Homo sapiens: one gene and its partners. The protein of the gene in region 1 binds, or shares a complex with, the protein of each later gene. Each region holds a gene or a part of one and is shown in the gene's direction. Other genes may lie near its edges.

What was found. The genes of interacting proteins can lie anywhere in the genome.
Region 2: PPP4R3B (region 1) and PPP4R1 share a complex: the UniProt entries of both Homo sapiens proteins name them as parts of the PP4 complex.
Region 3: PPP4R3B (region 1) and PPP4R2 share a complex: the UniProt entries of both Homo sapiens proteins name them as parts of the PP4 complex.

Annotation. Positions count from the first base shown.
Region 1 is NC_000002.12:55,557,739-55,566,264, reverse strand, and holds part of PPP4R3B (serine/threonine-protein phosphatase 4 regulatory subunit 3B), read left to right. Parts: intron 1-414; exon of another isoform or gene 415-562; intron 563-1,053; coding exon of another isoform or gene 1,054-1,071; exon of another isoform or gene 1,072-1,109; intron 1,110-1,223; coding exon 1,224-1,363; intron 1,364-1,767; coding exon 1,768-1,952; intron 1,953-7,296; coding exon 7,297-7,490; intron 7,491-8,526. UniProt on the Homo sapiens protein: Regulatory subunit of serine/threonine-protein phosphatase 4 (PP4). May regulate the activity of PPP4C at centrosomal microtubule organizing centers.
Region 2 is NC_000018.10:9,604,560-9,612,322, reverse strand, and holds part of PPP4R1 (serine/threonine-protein phosphatase 4 regulatory subunit 1), read left to right. Parts: intron 1-7,763. UniProt on the Homo sapiens protein: Regulatory subunit of serine/threonine-protein phosphatase 4. May play a role in regulation of cell division in renal glomeruli. The PPP4C-PPP4R1 PP4 complex may play a role in dephosphorylation and regulation of HDAC3.
Region 3 is NC_000003.12:73,055,048-73,062,810, forward strand, and holds part of PPP4R2 (serine/threonine-protein phosphatase 4 regulatory subunit 2), read left to right. Parts: intron 1-3,989; coding exon 3,990-4,083; intron 4,084-5,975; coding exon 5,976-6,013; intron 6,014-6,611; exon of another isoform or gene 6,612-7,034; coding exon of another isoform or gene 7,035-7,763. Other genes in the region: EBLN2 (endogenous Bornavirus-like nucleoprotein 2), read left to right, coding at 7,035-7,763. UniProt on the Homo sapiens protein: Regulatory subunit of serine/threonine-protein phosphatase 4 (PP4). May regulate the activity of PPP4C at centrosomal microtubule organizing centers.

The DNA of each region.
Region 1 (8,526 bases):
CCTAGGTTTCTAATTTCTGATTTGCGTATTTTTTTTCAATTGAGAAGTACAGGAGAACTAGTTTTAAGACTTAAAATCCATAATGCAACCAAATTATGGTGTATCTTTTCAAGAAATGACCTGTGTGTTTCTTACTATGTAGTGTTATCTGTAAAGTCCTCAATCACAACTTTAATTTTTTTTTTTAAAATAAGCCTACTGGGCATGCATGCATTTGCAGTGATGGTTTAGAATTTAGAAGTTATTACTATCAATTAGTTTATTTCACAGATATTATACTATTGGAAGACTATAGGAATAGACAAGTAGAATTCCAGATAGTTTATCAGATCTGTGTGTATAATATAGTCAGAGAAGTCTTTGCTTCTTATTATTTAGGTAACACGTGTCCTCTGTTGTTTTTTCTTCTTCTGTGTGTGTGAAAGCCAGCCTCTGATGTGGGAAAGGCTTGAGAGAGATCTCTTTGTCATCAAGCCTTTGCCAGCTCCTATATGATATATGTGGCAGAGTTAGGCTCATTTGAAAACTTAACAAATGTACCAGAAAGAAAACCACCACAACCATATCCCATTTTGATAGCAGTTAAACAGGAAGTCATTAAATAAGACCTGTTTGTTGAAAAATATGTTTTTCTTTTATTAATACATAATATTATACAGATGTATTTGGTACATGTATTTATTTTTTACATGCATAGAATGTGTAATGATCAAGTCCGGGTATTTGGGGTATCCATCACCGTGAGTATTTTGAAAATGTAATTTTAACATCTGCCCTCTAACCAGCCGTGTGCTCTGGATCAAACCATCCAGCCTCTCTTAGAGCCTCAATTTTGGTTTTTCTCTAAAATGGGAATAATAAAACCTATCTCATAGAATTGTTGTGAAGATCAAATGAAATTTTATGTAAAAGTGCTTTTTAAATTGTAAACTGCTATATATATATATATATATACAAAAAATAGAAGATGTAAAATAAATCTATTTACTTTTCGAATGCTCTTTATAGTCCTATAAAAGGACTCCAGTAAATTGCTTCTCCTTTTTTTTCAAGTTTTCTGTGCAGTCCTGACTCATGTGTAAAGAAACCAGGACATTACATTTTGGAAGGTGATTTTGAAAAACCTTTTTTGATCAGCTTTAGAACTACAAAACAAAATTTTAAAGTTTTTCTTCTAACAAGCATTGTATTATATTTTAAATGTAAATTTTGTGCTTATACAGGAAGATATCAAGTCTCTTACTGCCCATATAGTTGAAAACTTTTATAAAGCACTTGAATCGATTGAATATGTTCAGACATTCAAAGGATTGAAGACTAAATATGAGCAAGAAAAAGACAGACAAAATCAGAAACTGAACAGGTATTGTTTAAGTATACTGCTTTTATAGCCTACAAAACTGTGTCCAAAATTGTTTGTAGTTCAGATTTTCCATGTGAAATTTACTGAGGAATTTTCTTTCCATCACTGGATAGCATAGAGTTGAATAGGAGGGTAAGGCGTCCCCCCTACCCCATATCATTTATATGTTGAATTACTACTCCATGTTGTAACTTACGAAGAATATTTAGTTTAATTTACAACATCCTAAAATATTTTGGAGTGTTCTCTGGCTACATCTTCTATCATTACAGAGATTATTTTGATATAAATTATAGTCAGTTAAAATTACTTCAGTTCATCTTGGTTATACATATTTTTCCTTCAGTTCAATCTGATGATGAACTTTAAATCATTACTCAATATTTGTGATATATTTCTTACAGTGTACCATCTATATTGCGTAGTAACAGATTTCGCAGAGATGCAAAAGCCTTGGAAGAGGATGAAGAAATGTGGTTTAATGAAGATGAAGAAGAGGAAGGAAAAGCAGTTGTGGCACCAGTGGAAAAACCTAAGCCAGAAGATGATTTTCCAGATAATTATGAAAAGTTTATGGAGACTAAAAAAGGTATTAAAATTCGGAATTTTTGCACAGTGTACCCTCTTATTTAGTGCAGAAATTATTTTGTTGCTTTGTGAAGGTTTGTTTATAGTTTACAAAGCAAGAAAGACAAAAATTTTATACCAAACTGTGTTCTTTTAAAATTATGTACTTTTTCCAAATCTGTCTGGGAATTCTTTTCATGTTTAAAATGTTTCTCTTCAAACTTGCTATTTTGTAATGCTGTTAATTTGCTAGTTAGAAATTGAATTATCTACTTATACTTTTCTTTCTGTGAATAGTCTTGGCTTTATTTCTATACTGAAATTCTCAGTAATAACAGAGACCATATAGCTTCATAGAAACCTTCTAGAGTACTTTGCCTGTGTCTTTTACAGCTGATAAACTGAGCTCAAACAAGTAACTTTGCTCTTTGAAATTTTAAAATTACAAAAGTTACATAAAGATATACTAACAAGAGAAGTGAAAAAGTAAAACTTCCCCTGGCTTTCAGATGTGCTTAACTTGTTTTATAAAATGAAGATCTTGCTAGTAATATATCTTTCAAAAGAACTAACCATTTTACTTCTGTGGCCTGAGGAATTACCATTTTTTGGAATACTGCCCTGAGTATATCATTTAAATATTTAATTAAAATTTATACCTTGCTGGGCATGGCGGCTCACGTCTGTAATCCCAGCACTTTGGGAGACTGAGGCAGGTGGATCATTTGAGCCCAGGAGTTCCAAACCACCCTGGGTAACATGGTAAAACCCTGTCTCTACAAAAAAACACAAAAATTAAATGGGCACAGTGGCACTTACCTGGAGTCCCAGCTACTAGGAAGGCTGAGGCTGGAGGATCACTTGAGCCCAGGAGGTCGAAGCTGCAGTGAGCCATGAGCTGCCGCTGCACTCCAGCTTAATAACAGAGAAAGACCTTATCTCAAAAACAAAAGAAAAAATTTATGTCTTAGAAGATAAAAGCCTTTCTTGGATTTATTATGTAAGTTTGTGATTTTGAATGTGACATTTTCTAAAGACAATTCTCAGAAAATTAATTTCATTTATTACATTTTCTTTGAAACTATTGTTCGTACTCATTTTCAACTCATTAGTTTGATAAGTTTTATTTGCCTCAGCGTGGCGGAGCAAAAAGCTTATTAAAATATCCTAAGAAATCGGTACCTTTGCTAGACAAATTCTTCTGCCTTTACTCATTACAGGTACTGCCCTGACTATTGTCAAAAGAGGCAGTACAGCCATATTTGAAGTTCTGTATCCAGTGTTGAGTGAGATGCTGTTAAGAATCATATATAAAAATAATAACCAGATGTTAAAAGGGATTGGACACCTATGTCATAACACAAACAGAAAAAGGAACCTGGAATATTTAGGACTTACGGACTTGATCATTGTCTTTAGGCATTTGGAATATTGACTTGTGAGAGAAATTACTAGGTTTTTACCATGAGTAAAGAAGTGTAGAGTCAGTGAGTGGAAGCTACAGGGAGACAATAAAAGGAAGAGTCAGACAGCTAATGAGATTTTAGATGTATGTGCTAGATACCACAATGTAGAGTTCTAGCATAGAATGGCTAATTTTGTTATGATCCGTAAGGTCCTTTCTAATACTGAGATTTCTAAGATTCTAGCTAATAAAGACTTACCACTTGTATTAGTTCGTTTTATACTGTTAAAAAGAACTACCTAAGACTGGGTAGTTTATGAAGAAAAGAGGTTTGATTAACTCACAGTTCTGTAGGCTTAACAGGAAACATGGCTGAAAGGCTTCGAGAACCTTACAGTCATGGTCGAAGGCGAAAGGAAAGCAAGCATATCTTAACCATGGTGGAGCGGGAGACAGAGAGTGTGAAGGAGGAGGTGCCATGCACTTTTGTTTGTTTGTTTGCTTTTTGAGATGGAGTCTCCTTCTCATTGCCCAGGCTGGAGTGCAGTGGCGTGATCTCGGCTCACTGCAACCTCTGCCTCCTGGGCTCAAGCAATTCTCCTGCCTCAGCCTCTCAAGTAGTTGGGATTACAGGCATGTACCACCACACCCAGCTAATTTTTATATTTTTAATAGAGATGGGGTTTCACCATGTTGGCCAGGCTGGTCTTGAACTCCTGGTCTCAGATGATTCACCCACTTTGGCCTCCCAAAGTGCTGGGATTACAGGCATGAGCCACCAAGCCCGGCCGAGGTGCCACACACTTTGAAACAACCAGATCTCGTGAGAACTCACTATCACAAAAATAGCAAGGGGGTTTTCTGCCTCCATGATTCAGTCATCTCCTCCAACACCTGGGGATTACAATTCACAATGAGATTTGGGTGGGGACAAGAGCCAAACCATATCATTCCACCCCGGTCCCTCCCTAATTTCATGTCCTTTTTACATTTCAAAACCAATCATGCCTTCCCAACAGTCCCCCATAACTCATTCCAGCATTAACTCAAAAGTCCAAGTCCAAAGTCTCATATGAGACAAAGTAAATCCCTTCTGCCTGTGATCCTATAAAATAAAAAACAAGTTAGTTACCTCCAAGATACAACGGGGGTACAGACATTGGGTAAATGCTCCCATTCCAAATGGAAGAAATTGGCCAAAACAAAGGGGCTACAGGCCCTGGGCAAGTGCAAAGCCCAGCAGGGCAGTCTTTAAATCTTAAAGCTCCAAAATAATCTCCTTTGACTCCATGTTTCACATCCAGGGCATGCTGATACAACAGGTAGGCTCCCAGGGCCATGGCTGGCTTCGCCCCTATGGCTTTGCCAGGTACAGCCCCCATGGCTGCTTTCATGGGCTAGAGTTGAGTGCCTGTGGCTTTTCCAGGTGCATGGTGCAAGCTGTTGGTAGATCTACTGTTCTGGGGTCTGGAGGATGGTGGCCCTCTTCTCATGGCTCCACTAGGCAGTATCCCAGTGGGGACTCTATGTGGGGGCTCCAACCTCACATTTCCCTTCCGCACTGCCCTAGTAGAGGTTCTTCATAAGAGCTCTGCCCCTGCAGCAGATTTCTGCCTAGATATCCAGGCATTTCTATATGTCTTCTGAAATCTAGGTGGTTTGAGAATCAGAGGTTACCAAACCTCAGTTCTTGCCTCTACCCCACAGGCCCCGTGTCACATGGAAGCCACCAAGAGTTGGGGCTTGCACGCTCTAAAGCCATGGCCCAAGCTGTACCTTGGCTCCTTTTCGCCATGGCTGGAGCTGCAGCACCTGGGATGCAGGGTGTCCCAAGACTGCACAGAGCAGCAGGGCCCTGGGCCCAGCTCACAAAACCATTTTTCCCTCCTAGGCCTCTGGGCCTGTGAATTAACATTTGGCTCCTTGTTACTTATTCAGATTTCTGCAGCCAGCTTGAATTTCTCCCCAGAAAATGGGGTTTTCTTTTCTACTGCATGGTCAGGCTGCAAGTTTTCCAAACTTTATGCTCTGCTCCCTTTTAAATATAAATTCTAATTTCAGACCATCTCTTTCTTCATGCATATGAGCATACGCTTTTAGAAACCGCCAGAAGGCCTCTTTTTTTTTTTTTTTTTTTTTTTTTTTTTTTTTCTGAGATGGAGTCTCTCTCTGTTGCCCAGGCTGGAATGCAGTGGCATGATCTCAGCTCACTGCAACCTCTGCCTCCCAGGTTCAACTGATTGTCCTGCCTCAGCCTCCCAAGTAGCTGGGACTATAGGTGTGTGCCACCACGCCCAGCTAATTTTTGTATTTTTAGTAGAGACAGGGTTTCACCCTGTTGGCCAGGCTGGTCTCCAACTCCTGACTTCGTGATCCGCTTGTCTCAGCCTCCCAAAGTGCTGGTGTTACAGGCATGAGCCACTGTGCCCAGCCCAGGCCACCACTTGAATGCTTTGCTGCTTAGAAATTTCTTCCACCAGATATCCTAAATCATCTCTCTCAAGTTCAAGTTCCACAGATCTCTAGGGCAGGGGCAAAATGCCGCCAGTCTCTTTGCTAAAGCATACCAAGTATGACCTTTACTCCAGTTCCGAATAAGTTCCTCACCTCCATCTGAGACCTCCTCAGCCTGGACTTCATTGTCCATATCACTGTTAGCATTTTGGTCAAAACCAGTCAACAAGTCTTTAGGAAGTTCCAGACTTTCCCATATCTTCCTGTCTTTTTCTAAGCCCTCCAAATTGTTCCAACCTCTGTCTATTACCCAGTTCCAAAGTCGCTTCCACATTTTCAGGTATCTTTTTTTTTGAGATGGAGTCTTATTCTGTCATCCATGCTGGTGGGCAGTGGCACAATCTCAGCTCACTGCATCCTCTGCCTCCAGGGTTCAAGCAATTCTCCTGCCTCAGCCACCAGAGCAGCTGGGATTATAGGTGTGCACCACCACCCCCAGCTAATTTTTGTATTTTTAATAGAGAATAGGTTTCATCATGTTGGCCAGGCTGATCTTGAACTCCTGACCTCAAGTGATCCACCCTCCTCAGCCACCCAAAGTGCTGGGATTACAGGCGTGAGCCACTGCGCCCTGCCATTTTCAGGTATCTTTATAGCAGTACCACATTCCTGTTACCAATTTTCTGTATAGTTCGTTTTCACACTGCTCTAAAGAACTACCTGAGACTGTAATTTATGAAGAAAAGAGGTATAATTGACTTAAAATTCCACATAGCTGGGGAGGCCTCAGGAAACTTGTGGCGGAAGGTGAATGGGAAACAAGGCATGTGTTACATGGCAGCAGGAGAGAGAGAGCAAGGGGGGAAGTGCCACCCTTTGGAACAACCAGATCTCGTGAGAACTCACTATCACAAGAACAGCAAGGGCGAAATCCACCCCCATGATCCAGTCACCTCTCACCAGGTCCCTCCCCTGACATGTGGGGATTACAATTTGATTTGCGATTTGGGTGGGGACACAGAGCCAGACCATATCATCACTGTACACATCATGTTCTTTTTCAAAAGTTCTTAGGAAACAAAGGCAATTAATTTTGGTGTTATTTTTTTTTGTTTTTTTGGTTTTTTTTGAGACGGAGTTTCGCTCTTGTTGCCCAGGCTGGAGTGCAGTGGTGCGATCTCGGCTCACCACAACCTCTGCCTCCCAGGTTCAAGTGATTCTCCTGCCTCAGCCTCCCAAGTAGCTAAGATTATAGACATGCGCCACCACACCCGGCTAATTTTGTATTTTTAGCAGAGACGGGGTTTCTCCATGTTGGTCAGGCTGGTCTTGAACTCCGGCCTTGGGTGATCTGCCTGCCTCAGCCTCCCAAAGTGTTGGGATTACAGGCGTGAGCCACCATGCCCGGGCAGCAATGTTTTATAAGTTTTTTAATTACTGCTGTTTTTAGATGTTTTGACTTAGCAGTATTTATTGATATACGTTCAAAATTTTACTTTTGCTTTAGCAAAAGAAAGTGAAGACAAGGAAAACCTTCCCAAAAGGACATCTCCTGGTGGCTTCAAATTTACTTTCTCCCACTCTGCCAGTGCTGCTAATGGAACAAACAGTAAATCTGTAGTGGCTCAGATACCACCAGCAACTTCTAATGGATCCTCTTCCAAAACCACAAACTTGCCTACGTCAGTAACAGCCACCAAGGTAGGTGAAACAGCATTACACACAAACTTTGCTTTTCCCGTCTGTGAGATTTTTTCATGTTTACTGAAAAAAATTTGGATAATCAAAACAATTTCAATGAATTGTTTAGAATTTTTCTGTTACCAAAATGTTGATTGTAGAATTTTATTTTATTTTATTTTATTTTTTGAGACAGAGTCTCACTCTGTCGCCAGGCTGGAGTGCAGTGGAGTGATCTCAGCTCACTGCAACCTCCGCCTCCCGGGTTCAAGCAGTTCTCCTGCCTCAGTCTCCCAAGTAGCTGGGACTACAGGCGCGTGCCACCACACCCAGCTAATTTTTGTATTTTTAGTAGAGACGAGGTTTCACCATGTTGGCCAGGATGGTCTCGATCTCTTGACCTCATGTTCCGCCCACCTCGGCCTCTCAAAGAGAATTTCATTTTATTTAGGCTTATGATAATAAATGTAAGCATCCTTCCTCCCTGTCCCCCATTCTATTTTGGAGCACTTAAGTTGATTCTAATATTTCACTGACTACTTAGTGTTACTGCATTTTAAATTATTTTCTTGGATAGTTTAGTAGTAGAACGTCTTCACACATACGGTCAAATTCATCTTCATAAAGTCTATGCCAGTTTATGTTACCATAAACTGTGTATGAGTGTGCGTGGCCAATTGCAGCTTTGCCAGTGCTATAATTATTTTTAGTATTTGCCAGTTAGGTAGGGGAGACAGTATATAATATCTCATTTCCAATCGTGTATACTCTATTAGTAGTAAGGCTAAATATTAGCCTTTTGAATCTGCTCTTCTCTGCAAATTGGATTATATTATTGTCGATGAATCTTTAGTTAAGGATATTAGACTTTCTGTTGTTCTTATAACAAATGTATTTCCCTTGGTTACTTTTTTTATAAACAAGTTTAAATTTTATATGAAACATTTTTCTTGTTCATATGTTATATGAAATCATCCTTTTTCCCCAAAAAGGAGTGGCTTAAAATAAAAAGGCATAAATAGGGGACAACTATTGTATAAAGGTAGAAAGACAAGCA
Region 2 (7,763 bases), on another chromosome or scaffold:
GTGTCTTTTTGGGCAGACTTGGGCAACTCACTTAACCTCCCTATGCCTCAGTTTTGTCATTTGTAAGTAGGCATAAGAAATATTACCTACTTCATAGAGTTGTTCAAGGCTGTACATGAGTTAGTGCCTCTGAAGCACTTGGAACAATTCCTGGTAAACAGCGATGATTATGATTATGTTTGCTGTTATGAGAAAAGAGCAAGGGAAGCTTAAAAGAAGAGCAGAGAAGGAAACACTGATGTTGAACCTTACAGAATGAAGGTACTTAAAGATGCTGCCAATGCTCGCAACTAAATTTTTTTTTTTTTTGAGATGGAGTTTCACTCTTGTTGCCCAGGCTGGAGTGCAAAATGGCGCGATCTCGGCTCACCGCAACCTCTGCCTCCCGGGTTCAAGTGATTCTCCTGCCTCAGCCTCCCAAGTAACTGGGATTACAGGCGTGTGCCACCACGCCTGGCTAATTTTGTACTTTTAGTAGAGACGGGGTTTCTCCATGTTGATCAGGCTGGTCTCGAACTCCCGACCTCAGGTGATCCACCTGCCTTGGCCTCCCAAAGTGCTGGGATTACAGGCGTGAGCCACTGCGCCCGGCTGCAACTAACTTTTTAAAGATTCTGTTTCCTGTGCATTTTAATTTAGGATAAAACAGACATTGAAGGCACAATAGTTATTTGCATATTCATAATTTGGTTGAAGGCTTTGTTAGAGTAATTGCTTATTTTTCTCAGTTACTAAAGTTTTTACAGGTGATACCTTTACCCAGAATATTCAGGAACAAAGGACTTTTGGACATATGGCCAGTTGAAGGACCACTTCCCATCTCTTGTGAAGGGAGAAAGAATGAGGGGGAACACTGGGCCATGGTGCCTCCTTAGAGAGCAAGATGGTTGGTAAAGGACTGAGACAGCTGTCACATCCTGGAGAAGCTGGAGAAGGTAGAGGACCCAAAGGTAGAGGAACGGAGCTTGGGCTGCCCTTATAACACGGTTGTTATCTCGTGAGCCTGAGTTTCTCTGTCTATGGTAAAACTCCAGAGTATGGAGCCCAACCTCCAGAGTAGTTGTAAACAAGTCCTACTACTTCAGCCAAGCTAGGTGTAAGTTGGCCCTTGGGATGGGAAGAAATTGTTTTCTGGTCAAGCTCTAGAATCTTGGTTGACCTTCCTAAATGCAGAACCTGGACTATGAGGGAAGAGACAGTAAGTTCTGTTGTGCAGATGATCTAGGAAAGGACCTAGCTGGAGTCTAGGACTTGAAAGAGGGGCATTGCCAGACATTGCTAAGAGTCTCAGGTCTTTCGATTTGATTTGTTTTAATCCCGTCTCTGTACAGAGGCACAGAGTCGGGGAAAAGGTTGGTCAAAGACTGACTTGACTGATAACCTTTGGAGGAAAAAAAATCCTAATGAGGGAAAAATGGATGGTATTTGTGTGTGTGTGTGTGTGTGTGTGTGTGTACACATAATTTCATTGAAGGAGTTTCATTAGAACTTAAACTTTTATCAAGTAACTTATAAAGGTAAGTAAATGAAATCATTATCAGGTACTCTTAAATTTAGGAGAATAGGCTGGGTGCAGTGGCTCATGCCTGTAATCCCAGCACTTTGGGAGGCCGAGGTGGGCGGATCACGAGGTCAGGAGATCGAGACCATCCTGGCCAACATGGTGAAATGTCTACTGAAATACAAAAAAAAATTAACTGGGCGTGGTGGCGTGCACCTGTAGTCGCAGCTGCTCAGGAGGCTGAGGCAGGGGAGTTGCTTGAACCCAGGAGGTAGAGGTTGCAGTGAGCCAAGATTGTGCTACTGCACTCCAGCCTGGCGACAGAGCAAGACTCCGTCTCAAAAAAAAAAAGTTTAGGAGAATAATGCAATAAAAACCATATGTATTTAAGTTTAAAAGTGAAACTTTCAGTACTGTATCATGAAATACTTTGAATTTCAAATTGAAAGCAAACCAGTGACTCCATTTGAACATAGGTTATCTCAGCAGATTTCAGAGTTGGGTAAACCCTTTTTAACTTTTTATATTTAATTATGTTCCTTAAATAATGGGAGACAATACAAAATTGTAGATGTTTAGAAAAAATTATTTCAGATTTCTGTTTTAGTTTCCAAAGATGCAATTTTGATTCACATTTAAGTTGGTAGATTCCTAAAATGAAATGAGACTAAGATACGGTTAAGATTTGATGAGCCAATGCTTGTAAAAATAATTTCATTGAAGGAGTTTCATTAGAACTTAAGCTTTTATCAAAGTAATATGTTGAAGAATGTTATTTTTAAAGAATGGCTATGTAACGCTTAGTTTACAGTGCCTTTCATACACAGGTTATTCTTCACAGCAGTCCTGTGATGTGTAGGCTGTGGTATTCTAATACTAATAAGTAAGTTGACTAATGCCCAAAGGGACTAAAGAAACAAAACTCCTAAGTTTAGACGGAATTTTAAGCTAGGCCTTCTGATTCTAAATATCATATTTTGAATATTTTCTTAAATGGCCCAGTTTAAAATATTGATCAACCCAAACTTGTACAGGCAATTTCTTTGAACTCGTTCTTAAAGTACCCTTGAAAATTAATCTGGGATGCTGCATGTGGTTTAGTTTACACCTGGAGAATGATAGAGAGGATGGAGCTTGGGTATAAGACAGCTTATTTAGTCGTTAACTTTTATCTCAGCTGTAACTAAGTATGACGTTGAAAAGTTTTTGAAGCTATGTTATTGAGTATGCCATACAACAGACTTTTTTCATATTTAAGTTTTGGAATCCTTTTACATTATGCTGTTTTTCGGGTTTAAGGGCGGTGTTGAAGTAGAGTGAAGGATGGGTCCAGAACTAACTGAGGGTAACCGCCTAGACCGCACTCTGTGCAGAATCTTCAGGCCTTCCTACCATGTTTCAAAACCAGTTCTGATAAGCTTAGAGTCCTTGCTTCCGGTGGGAGGTGAGGAGCAAAATATTGGGGCTGTATCTGGTAGTGGCCAGGGAATCATTCAGAAACCTTTGGAAGGTGCCCTTGAACGTGAATCATATTTAGGAGTATTGTTAAATAGGGATTTGGGAGGGTGAGTCGTGAGACCTGGTAGCCTGTTTTGACTGCTGCCAACAAGCCTGGATGGAGAGATCTTTATTTAGAGATAATATCATTGATATCTTAGAAAAGAGTGCTTTTAAAATGGTTTCAGTGGTACCCACATGTGTGTTGGATCAATTAATGATACCTCTGCTAACAACTTCCCACATAAAATTGAAAGAGAGAGAGAGAGAGACAGAGAGAAAAACCCCTTTGTAAATATGCTTGGGCCTGTAGCTACACGATCCACTGCCCTCCCCCCTCCAAAAAATAAAAAACCAAGACACCTAAATGCATACTTTTTGTTTGTTCCTGCCTGTGAAAGATAAATAGACCTCAGGAGGTAAAGTTCAGAAGTCTGCTGCCACATTTGTTTGATCTCTGGTTTATTATTTCTGGTCCTTTTCTCTCAGTCTCCTCAAAACAATGAATGTATGTTTATTAAACTATTGTTACCTTGCTCCTATGTTTGTATTACATCTTTTTTTTATATTTTGGAGTAAAAGAATTTGAAAGTTCCTAAATTTGAATTAGAGTTGTGTTGTTGTTTTTAAATTGGAGCTGAGAATAAACCTAACTTAGTGTTTTGGGCAGAAGTCTGGATGGCACACCTATGGAATTTTGGCTGAGGAGGTATTCCCTCTAATTTCTATAAGAGGGTCTGGAACTTGCTCTGCTTTTAGCACAGATCTTTGAGCTGGTGACATCATCAATGCTGCTTCCTCCACATTCATTTCTTAACTCTCCTAACTTTTAAGTCATCTTAGCTTCTTATCTCCCTAGACTAAGGAGCAAACTTAACTTACTTTCTGGCCTTATTGATATGAATGTGGTTGGTATTTGAGCATCTATCATGCAGTCATTCTGGAAGATACCTCAGTATAGTTTTGTGTAGGGGAAAGAACACTGGGCTTGGTAAGCCTTTAGACCTGAGTTAATATTCTGGCCCTGCCATTTATTCTCTTTATAATCTGAGCAAGTTAACTTTTTCTCAGCTTTCTACCTTTAAAATGTTGATGGATTTTTGGATCATCTGCAGTTTTTTTGCTGTTACAAATAAAGCTGCTATGAACATTCACACACAAGTCTGTGTGAATATATATGTTCTTTCTCTTGGGTATACATCTAGAAGTAGAATGGCTGTTTAACTTTTTAAGAAACTGCCAGCCCGGTGCGGTGGCTTATGCCTGTAATCCCAGCACTTTGGGAGAACGAGGCGGGTGGATCACCCGAGATCAGGAGTTCAAGACCAGCCTGGCCAACATGGTGAAACCCCGTCTCTATTAAAAATACAAAGAATTAGCTGGGCGTGGTGGTGCATGCCTGTAATCCTAGCTACTCGGGAGGCTGAGGCAGGAGAATCACTTGAACCTGGGAGGCAGAGGTTGCAGTGAGCCGAGATTGCATCATTGCACTCCAGCCTGGGCAACGAGCGAAACTCCATCCAAAAAAAAAAAAAAAAAAAGAAAGAAAGAAAAACTGCCAAACTGTTTTCCAAAGTGGTTATATCATTTTCCATTCCCACCAAAAGTGTATGAGAGTTCCAGGTCCTCATCATCATTGTCAACACTTAGTGTGAGCAGTCTTAATTTTAGCCACTCTTATTAAATGTATAATAGTATTAATTTGTGGCTTGAATTTGCATTAATGGCTAATTATGTTACTCTTTTTATGTGCTCATTTGCCATCTAACTTATCTCCTTTGGTGAAGTGCCTTTTCACATCTTTTGCTCATCTTTTCATTGGGACATTTTCTTATTAAATTTTGAGAGTTCGTTATATATTACAGATACTTAAGACATATACAAAGGCAGATGGACCATCATGTCTCTACTACTCGGTTTTGACTTTCATTTATCCATGTTTCTGTTTTTGTTTTTTTTTTTTTGAGACAGGGTCTGGCTCTGTTGCCCAGGCTGGAGTGTAATGGCACTATCTTGGCTCACTGCAACGTCTGCTTCCCGGACTCAAGTAATCCTCCCACCTCAGCTTACCAAGTAGCTGGGACCACAGGCCTGCACCACCACGCCTGGCTAATTTTTTTGTATTTTTGGTAGAGATGGGGTTTTGCCATGTTGTCTAGGCTGGCCTTGAGCTCCTGAGCTCAAGCAATCCACCTGTCTTGGCCTCCCAAAGTGCTGGAATTACAGGTGTGAGCCACTGCACCCAGCCTGATGTAGATCACTTTTATATTTAAATCTATGAAATTCATTTTTGATAGAAATAACTCATTTATTCAATACTTCATTTATTTAAGATTGGTGGCAATTTGGACCTGAGTTAGTTCAAATTTTGTATTTGGATTACCTGTGGGAAAAAAGGTTACTACCAAAGTAATTGCGTTAAGAGTGCAAAGAAAATTTTTACTCACTGAAGGGAACAAATATCTATAATATTTGGGAGATCCACAAGTGTATGTCAGAGCAAGTGCTTTGTTATACTACCTTTCTGTTAAATACTGTTTGTATACATAATCTTGGTAACTAACTTGAAACTAGATAAACATGCCACTACTGTATTATATAAATAGAAATACATTATACATATGGTGTATATATATAAATATAAATACATATATGAATATACATATAGTATACTTCAGCAAATTATTCTTGCCTTAAATTCAGTTGTGCTATAGGACAATTTTGCATTTCTAAGGATTTAGTAAGCTTTTAGTATTGATATTTGAAGGAAGGGTTTCTGATAAACATTATTTATATTATTGCAAAGTACAAAATTAAAGTTTGACATACCTGTTGCTGGAGACTATAAAGATTATGTTGTATGGTCCCTGTAAAAGGCCAAATATTAAATAGTTTAGGTTTTGTGGACCATATGATCTTTGTTGCAGCTACTCAGATCTGCTGTTGTAAGGTAAAAGCAGCCATGACAATACAGAAATGAATGAAAGTAAGTGTCATCCAATAAAATTTTATTTACGAAAACAGAAGGTGGGCCAGTTTGGCTCGCTGGCTGTAGTTGGCCAACCCCTTCACTGTGCTATAAAATCCAAGGTCTGTAACATTTTTATTCTTGACTCATCACACAGTGTTCAGCAATACATCTCATCAGTGCTTAATGTAGAATAAGTATTGAATGAATCTTGATGTTTCACACCAAGCTAAATAAGACCGTAAACCTAATTTGGGGTCAAATAATGAAATTATTTTTAATTAAACTTGTTATTTTGAAAACTTTCAGACCTATACAAAAGCTGCACAGATATTGTAATGAATTCCCAACTCTTCACCTGAATTAAGCTGTTAACATTTTGCCAGTTTGCTCGTTACTTCTCTATACAGTTATGTACACACACACAATGTAATGTAATTTTTTGGTGTACCTTTGAAAATAGGTTGTGGTCATTGGGACCTTTAGCCTGTGTCTCCTAAGAACAAGGGCACTTTTACAATCATAGTAATGAAATTTGGGAAATTTAACATTGCTACAATCCTGTTATATAGTATGTAGTACATATTGAAATATCCCCAGTAATGTCCTTATGGCAACTGTCTTTTGCTGTAAGGACATTACTTACAAACTTACTAGTTTGGAACAATTTCTCAGCCTTTAGCATTCATGAAATTGACATTTTTGAAGAGTCCATTTGGTTTTATCTGTTTCCTCATGATTTGATTCAGGTTATTCTTTCCTTTTTTTTTTTTTTTTTTTTTTTTTTTTTGACAGGACTGCTACATAAGTGATAGTGTAGTTTTCTCAGTGCTTCAGATTAAGGAGCACCTGATAGCAGTGTCCATTACTGGTAGTGTGGAGGTGATGTCTATCAAATTGCTCCACTGTAAAGATTCTGTTTTTCCTATTGTAATTAGTAAGGAAATAGTTTGACAATGGGGAAATACCCTGTTTCCAAACATTTACCCATTTAGTGTTAGAATGTGTTGATGATTCTTGCCTGAATTAATTGCATTTACTAGCTGACATTCTGCTTTATAGAAGAGCCTGATCTTCCTCCCTATTCATTTGTTGGTATATTTATTTGTTAAAATATAATTTTAAAGCCCCAAATCTTTATAAGGTAACTCATTCTGTGGTGTATCTCATTGTCTTTCATTTTCTAAAATGTAAAGATGGGAAACAAAATGTGGCCGATTTATTGTGGCCTGAGCAGTATCTAGGGAAAAACTGAAGGGAAGGATAGACTATGAGCTTTTTTATGTTTTACGTTACATTATTAGAGATTATGTAGAGAATAGAAGGGTGTTTTGATCAATTTTGATAAAAGTTTGTACGAATTAAAAAGTTCTCTTTGGTGTGATACTTCTCAAGGTATTAATATGCTAATGTGCTTGTGAATATCTTAGAGAAGGATAAAGTATAGTAAACTCTTGACTTATCAATTATCCCTATGGACTACATTTTCATTAACAAATATTAATGAATGTGCCTCCATGAGAAGCATTGGACTCTGTTTTTTAGATAATGAAAAGTTTAGCAAGACAATCTTTAGGGAATTTATATATGTTGGGGAGGGAGAGGAGAAGGGAAGGTAGGAGAATATGAAAAAAAGGAAAAATACTTTGCAATTATTGGTGGAGTAAAAGCAAGGGCACCCAAGACGGCAGGGAATTAAAAGGAAGAACTCTTAATTAGAAAATAGAAAATGCCTCCTGGGTGTTGTTAGTAATAGGTAAATTTAAGCTGAGATGAGGTTAGAGAGGACAGAAATGG
Region 3 (7,763 bases), on another chromosome or scaffold:
TAAGATATATAAGGTAAAATGTGTGGTCCTATTAATTAGGGTAAGTTATTTTCCTTGGAATTAAAGGGAGTATTTTTAAAGACAGACCTATACTTTTGGTTTTGTTGGTCTTTGGACCATGTGTGCCTTCCCACAATCTCTATCAAAGAGTAGATGGAATGATGACAATAAGAACTAAGATTTATTGAACTTTCTGAAATATTTTAGGCACTGTTAGGTGATTTAATATACCATATACATTATGTCGTATTTAGTCGTCATGATAATCTTTGAAGTGTACTTGTAGAACCCTTGTTTTCAGACAAGACCCATGAGACCCATGAAGACTCAGGTAAATTCAGTTTTGAGTAAGGTCTCCTAGTGGGGTAGCGTGTGTGTGTGTGTGTGTGTGTGTGTGTGTGTGTGTGTATTAAAATATATATATATATTTAGCAAAGGTGGATCCTTAATGTGTGGGGCGGGGGGTTTAAAAAATGTTACTGGATGTTGTAGGCACTGTTTTAAAAAATTTGAGATGCTAGCTAGTCATGTCCTTTTTTCAGTTCCTTATATCATCTTAGTTTTCCATTTTACAATATGAATAAATCAGATGATATATCATTGCAGAGTAAACCAAACGCTTTTTTTTTTTTGGAGACAGTCTCACTCTTATCACCCAGGCTGGAGTGCAGTGGCTCAATCTCGACTCACTGCAACTTGCAACCTCCACCGCCCAGGTTCAAGCAATTCTTTTGCCTCAGCCTCCCGAGTAGCTAGGATTACAGGCCAGGCTGGTTCTTGAACTCCTGACCTCAGGGGATCGCCTGCTTCGGCTTCCCAAAGTCCTGGGATTACAGGCGTGAGCCACCGTGCCTGGCCCAGGGTTTTTTATTTTACAGTATAACTTTGCTAATGAACATCTGATCACCACTTCCCCCCAAATTTAAGGATTTCTGAATAGACTTTTCATTGAGAATGAGTGGCATGTGTGTTTAACGCTCCTCTCCCTATATTTGCTTTTCTTAGTATGTGTGGGAAAAGCCTTAATATTTTCAGAAGTTAGAATAAACTATTTTGTATGCTATGTCTAATGGATGAGTATCAGAGAGCAGAGCTTTCATATACTTGTACCAAATGCTTTCATTTTGTACTGGTTTTTCTGGTTTATTCTTGTGCCTCCTTTTAGAGGCCTACCTCACACTAAGTTTTCCCAGTGTCACGCTTACTAAGCTTGGCATACAGTTTATTCTGTCTCCATGGCACTTTTTATACAGTGTTGTTATTTATTACTGTAATTGTAATTATTTACATGTCTTTTGACTGCTGTTGAACAAGGTTGGTATTTCTAGTTTATAATAGGCTCTTATATTTATGGAATAAGTTTAAAAGTACAGTCTGTATGTAAAGAGACCTTTCAATGCTGTTACGTTCATTTATCATACTAATATTTCCAGTGGATCCATTGATTTGCAGAAAGTGTTTGGTTGGGATTTAGCCTGTCGTGTGAGAAAAGGAAGTGTTGTGTGACATTTTAGTGCCATCTATTGGATACTTGGTAAAATGACTTTTAAAGCTTCTTTTACTTTTTGAAATAAGGATCTTTTGAAAAAAGCTTCTGAAATTGTCTAAGAACTTAAACTCGTTTTATCATTGCTGGTATTGCTATGTAAACACATACCCCCCTCCCAAAGCAGTATTAATATTAAACAACACATAAAATATTAATAATTGGCTACAATTTAACTTACATTTCTAAAGAAAATTAGCCAAAGCATTCAGTGTACATGTTGTTAAACAAGAAGTTTTAAAATATTCATCTGTTAAAACTAATTTTAATTAGTGAGAAAACATTAGGTTTTAATGTGGGAAAGAATTTTAGTAGGAAGAAAAAGCATAATGACTAGACAGTATTTTTCAGTTAAGTACTATTTGAATACCCAAACACTTGTTGAATACCCAAACTGTTGGTGCTATTTTGTATATTTTGAATAATAAATTTTAATGACAGTATCACTATGGGGTGATTAATGAGGAAATAGCTTAGGTGTGTTGTGTGTGTAAGGTTTGAAGAGCCATGAACTAGAAGAGGAGCTAAGGTGAGTTATACCACTAATCTGAAATCCACGATAATACTGGGTTTCACGGACAGACAATTGAGAAACTAATACTGTTTGTTATACATGTGGAAAATGCTTAAACATTTTTAAAGTAGAGTTAGTTTTGTGTATTAGCTATAGATTTCTAATGGTTGTCTTTATAGGAATGAAACAAAAGATGTATAAGCTTATTGTTTCATACTTAGTAACGCTGTTGGTGTGCTTTGTACTTCCCCATTTAAAAGGATTCTTCATTTTGACATTGTACTTCACTCTGAGTAGATTTTCAAAAGCAAAAAAGTATTCTTCCTCAGAAACCCAGAGGAATTTCTAGTTGCTTCTGAATGTTTGGAATATCAGGCAAACATTTAATCTTTTATTCTGTGCCTTGTCTTTTGGTAGAACAGTTTTCTCACTTTTAGGTTTGGATTCGATTTTAGGTTTGAGACAAAAGATTGATTCTTGGACTCTCAAATTTATCTAAAAACATTTGTTCTCATATGAATAACATGCACTTTAAGCACTTTCAGAATTTTTTGCACATCTTATACTTTGAACATAAGAATAGTATTGACACAAAGAATATGAGAACCAAATGTAGTTTATCCAGTTAGAAAATAAACAACTATAATTTTGTAAAATACGTGTGGTACAATGGAAAGGACATGAGATTTGAAGTTAGAGAGACTGAGTTTGAGTCCTGGCATTTTAACTCACTAACTACTATACCTTGTGGTGGAAGAAAATTCTGTATCACACTGCCTATAAAAAATGAAGACCTTTGTGAATGTTAACTATTAATTTGAGGCTTTGTAATTCTTTTCATTAAAGAGAATAAATAGATTGGTATGGCAGACACTGAAGTCTGAAGATTTGTTTGTATTTGTTAGCTGCGTTTGTCGTACCTCGTGCTCATAACTTTGCTGTTCTGTTCAGCTTGTAATTCTTATGAATGCTAATAGCTACATGAGCTCAAAACTTAAAAATATTTATAAAATGATTTTAGTTCCAACTTATATCAGTTTTGTATTTACTGTGGTCAAGGAAAAATTGAGGTATAGTGAAATTATTTGGTAAAGTTAAATAAAAGTTGTGTATATTTTAAGTTGGATTAAACTTAGATTATATATGAAATTGCAATAATGGAGCAGAACCACATTTAAAATATTTGTAGTTTTGTTTGAACATTTTAAAGAAACCTTTGAGTGCAGAAGAATACTTGAGGAAAAATACATATATTAAATAACCCCCAACTTGATTATTATTTGTGTTACCTCTCTTGTAAACTTAAAAATCAAATTATCAGGATTTAGAATTTTCTATTATATAAAAATTTTTTCCTCAGTTTTGAAGCTTTCTGTTGATTTTGGGTGTTCTAAGTTGCTTTTTTTTTAAAAAAGAATTTCTGTTGGTAAATAGTAGGTTTACATATTTATGGGGTACATGAGATATTTTGATAGAGCCATACAATGCATTATAATCACATCAGGGTAAATGGGTTATCCATCACCTCAAGCGTTTCTTTATGCTTTGTGTTACAAACAGTACACTTATACTCTTAGTTATTTTAAAATGTACGATAAATTATTGTAGTCAACCTGTTGTGCTATCAAATACTAGATCTTATTCATTCTAACTATATTTTTGTACCCGTTAACCATTCCCCCCTCCCTCCCCCCCCACCTTTATTGCTTTTTAAAGGAAGGGAGAATGGTTTTTTTGTTAAATAGAAAGGTATGCTTATTTTATTGTCTTTTTTTAAATGACTCATCCATTTATTTCCCTATTATAGCATTTTCTTTTGTAGCTTAATACATGGGTGACTAGATACAGCTTTACCTAGCAAAAGAAATAATGTTCCTCGTTTTCTTGATTATCAGTGATCTCACACTGTAAAATTATATTTTTTTGCAGTATCCCTTTTACTATTCAGCGACTATGTGAATTGTTAACAGATCCAAGGAGAAACTATACAGGAACAGACAAATTTCTCAGAGGAGTAGAAAAGGTATTTATTTTATTATTGGAATTATATTATGCTGTGGTGTAATAGCTTTTATTTTAGAAAAGAACATTGAGTAAGATCTGTTTCGGGTACCACTTCTTGAAATATGTTTTTCAGCCTACCTTGAGTTTCCCAAATTGTTTTCCAAATTGCATTCTGTTTTACAGAGAGATTTAATAGGACCGGGTAGAGGAGGGTTTGTGTGTTGGTCATTGAAGTTTGGTGAAAGCAGCTTATTATTTCTTGGAAATTCATAGTGTATATCAACTTATTAAAGGTTCTGTGAAGTTATAATTGCTATTTTAACTTTATAGAGTGTTTTATAAACTTACACATGGAATTCATTTTCTCAATTCTGGAGTTCAAAGGTACATAACTTTGGAAACTTACTGGTGCCAAGCATGTAAATGAGGTATTGAGTAGAAAGATGCAGGTCAGATTTAGAGATAAACATTAGTGTTTGTGTGTGGAGGGGGTTGAGGGAGTGTTAGAATAAGGGAAGGGTATTCTGAATAAAGGAAATGGTGTGGGCTGGGTGTGGTGGCTCATGCCTGTAATTCCAGCACTTTGGGAGGCTGAGGTGGGTGGATCACGGTCAGGAGTTCGAGACCAGGCTGGCCAACATGGTGAAACCCTGTCTCTGCAAAAAATACAAAAACTAGCCGGGCGTGGTGGTGCACGCCTGTAATCCTAGCTACCCAGGAGGCTGAGGCAGGAGAATTGCTAGAACCTGGGAGACGGAGGTTGCAGAGAGCTGAGATGGCACCATTGCACTCCAGCCTGGGCAACAAAGTGAGACTCTGTCTCAGAAAAAAAAAAAAAAAAGGAAATGGTGTGAAGAACAAAGATTCAAGGTGTTTAAGGGAATGAAAAGTAAGAAATTGACTTGTCTTGAGTGAAAAATGAAGGAAGCCCTGTGAGAACCAAGATTGGACTAATGAGTTCTAATTTTCAGTTGATGGTTGGTCCGGAAACACTCCCCTGTTCATTTAAGGATCTGGTTCAAATCCACTTTATTTTACCCTGGGAACAGGAATCAAAAACCATTACATAGTGATTTACAGTAGTTTTTGTGGCCATACTGGATTAATATATTTTGTTGATCCTCTGTACACTCAATTGAATAATATCCCCAAAGGCCAGGAAACTGAGATGGCTCATCAGTACTTACTTTTCAGCTCCAGGAGTTGTAATAATTACATTTTGGAGATTTTCAGATAAAGTAGCAATATGTTACAGTAGTCATACCAGGTGCCCTGCCTTTAAATCAGGGTTGCAGTGTTTCATAGTTGTGTGACCTTGGGCCAGTTAGTTTTCTCCTCTGTAAAATGTGGTTAATAATAGGGCTGGGAGGGGGATTAAATGCAAAACACTTACTGTGACTCATACTAAACTTTCAGTGAACACTGAATATTAGTAAAGTTATTTTTACTGGGAAGATCATAAATATATTACAAAAAAGGTTTGAGTCTCTTTCTGTGGGATATATGATGCAACACAACAAGCCGTGGATTGGGTGTTGCTTTGTAAGGAAAATCAATTACATATGTCTTAAGTACTTCAATCTCTCAACATCTTTGTTGATTCCATCTGAGCTTAGTTACTCTACTACGTATAGTGTATGATGTTACGGGTCTAGAATAACTAGATTAGGGTAAAAAATAAGTATAGGAAAAAAAAAATTAGTGGCTGAGTAGGATATTCTCTTTTGGTCCTTTGTTATTGTTTTAGTTTTTGCTGTTTCACCAGTTTTCATTTTTAACCATTTTCCTTTACTAGCAAAATTAGAATCAATGGGAATTTAACCCACCAGAGTGATTTTAGAAACAAAAATGATGAAACTTTATGTTGTAGTACTTTTCTTCATACTAAATCACTGATTTTTGTTATTGCAGAATGTGATGGTTGTTAGCTGTGTTTATCCTTCTTCAGAGTAAGTATATTTTTTCTATTTCTAGTATATTATTTACTATATTTAATCATTTTATTGCTTCTAATATATTATTCTTAAAATAGACTGAATTTATTTAATATGTAATTAAGTGTGATAACATACTTGTGAACCTACCATTCAGTCCCCAAAGTAGAATATTACTAATAACATTATCTATATGTTTTTTCCATTAAAGAGATTTGGATTAAAGAGATTGGTGATTTACTGTAATTTTAATATTGTTGGATTTACATACTGTGGTGGCACTCATTGCCCTGAGATGCCATTCTAGATGCCTTTCCAGGGTGTCTCTAGGGCATAATTCCCATGTTTGGAATAACTACTTGATGGCTTTTCTCTTTATGATGGAAAATATTTCCAGTTGTCAAGATTTAGATATAGCAAAGTAAGAATTAAATTTGGATACAATTTCTCAACCTTGGAACTATGGACATTTTGTACCAGATAATTCTGTTGTGAGTGGGTGTCCTGGGGATTATAAGAGGTTTAGCACTGTCCTTGACCTCTACCCACTTATGCCAGTAGTGTTCCCCTCTCCAAATATCTTTAGACATTGCCAAATGTCTCTTGGAGATGTGAAAGGCAGGGAGGGGAGGTTGTCCCCTGCTGAGAACCATTGGTTTAAGGTTAATCTGGCTCTGCTTTCATAGACTACTCTGTTACCCAGGCTGGAGTGCGGTGATGAGTGATCATAGCTCACTGCAGCCTTAAACTCTAGTGATCCTCCCGCCTTGGCCTTCCAAAGTGCTGAGATTACAGATGTGAACCACCACACCCAGCCCAGTCAATTTGTTTTTAGAATGTTCCCAAGAATATAGTTATGTTGCTAAATAAGATACTAAAATAATCCCATACTATATTTCTTGACAGAAAAACTATTAAAATGTATACATGATAAAAATTTCTTTTATGAAGCAAAATATGTTTTGTTTTGCTCATGAACGTGAGGTATTTTGGAAAAATGGTAAAGAAGTGCAGAGTCAAGTCATAGCGACTAATAATGGGTTATTTTCTTAAATTGTATGCTTATGTTAATTCTCACAGTCTTTTTGTTTGGGTCTGTGACAGATCTTACAAAAGATCTTTTAGACCTATGATTCTTAACAAAATTAAAGAATTAAGTCGGAACCAATTTTCCACAATGTCTCATCTAAGAAAGGACTCACAGCCCAGCAGCCCAGGAGATGACGCAATGGACAGGAGTGGGCTCCCTGACCTTCAAGGAAGATTTGAGCTATCTGGGAAAAACAGACAGTATCCACTGGATGCATTGGAACCCCAACCCAGCATTGGGGATATTAAGGACATTAAAAAAGCAGCCAAGTCTATGCTAGACCCAGCACATAAATCTCATTTCCACCCTGTGACCCCAAGTTTAGTATTCTTGTGTTTCATATTTGATGGGTTACACCAGGCATTACTGAGTGTTGGTGTGAGCAAGAGGTCTAATACTGTGGTTGGGAATGAGAACGAGGAAAGGGGTACTCCTTATGCTAGCAGATTCAAAGATATGCCTAACTTTATTGCCCTTGAGAAGTCATCAGTTCTCCGCCACTGCTGTGACCTTTTGATAGGCATTGCGGCTGGATCAAGTGATAAGATTTGCACCAGCAGTCTCCAAGTTCAGAGACGATTCAAGGCAATGATGGCATCTATTGGAAGACTTTCACATGGTGAGAGTGCTGATCTGCTAATCAGCTGCAATGCAGAATCAGCCATAGGTTGGATC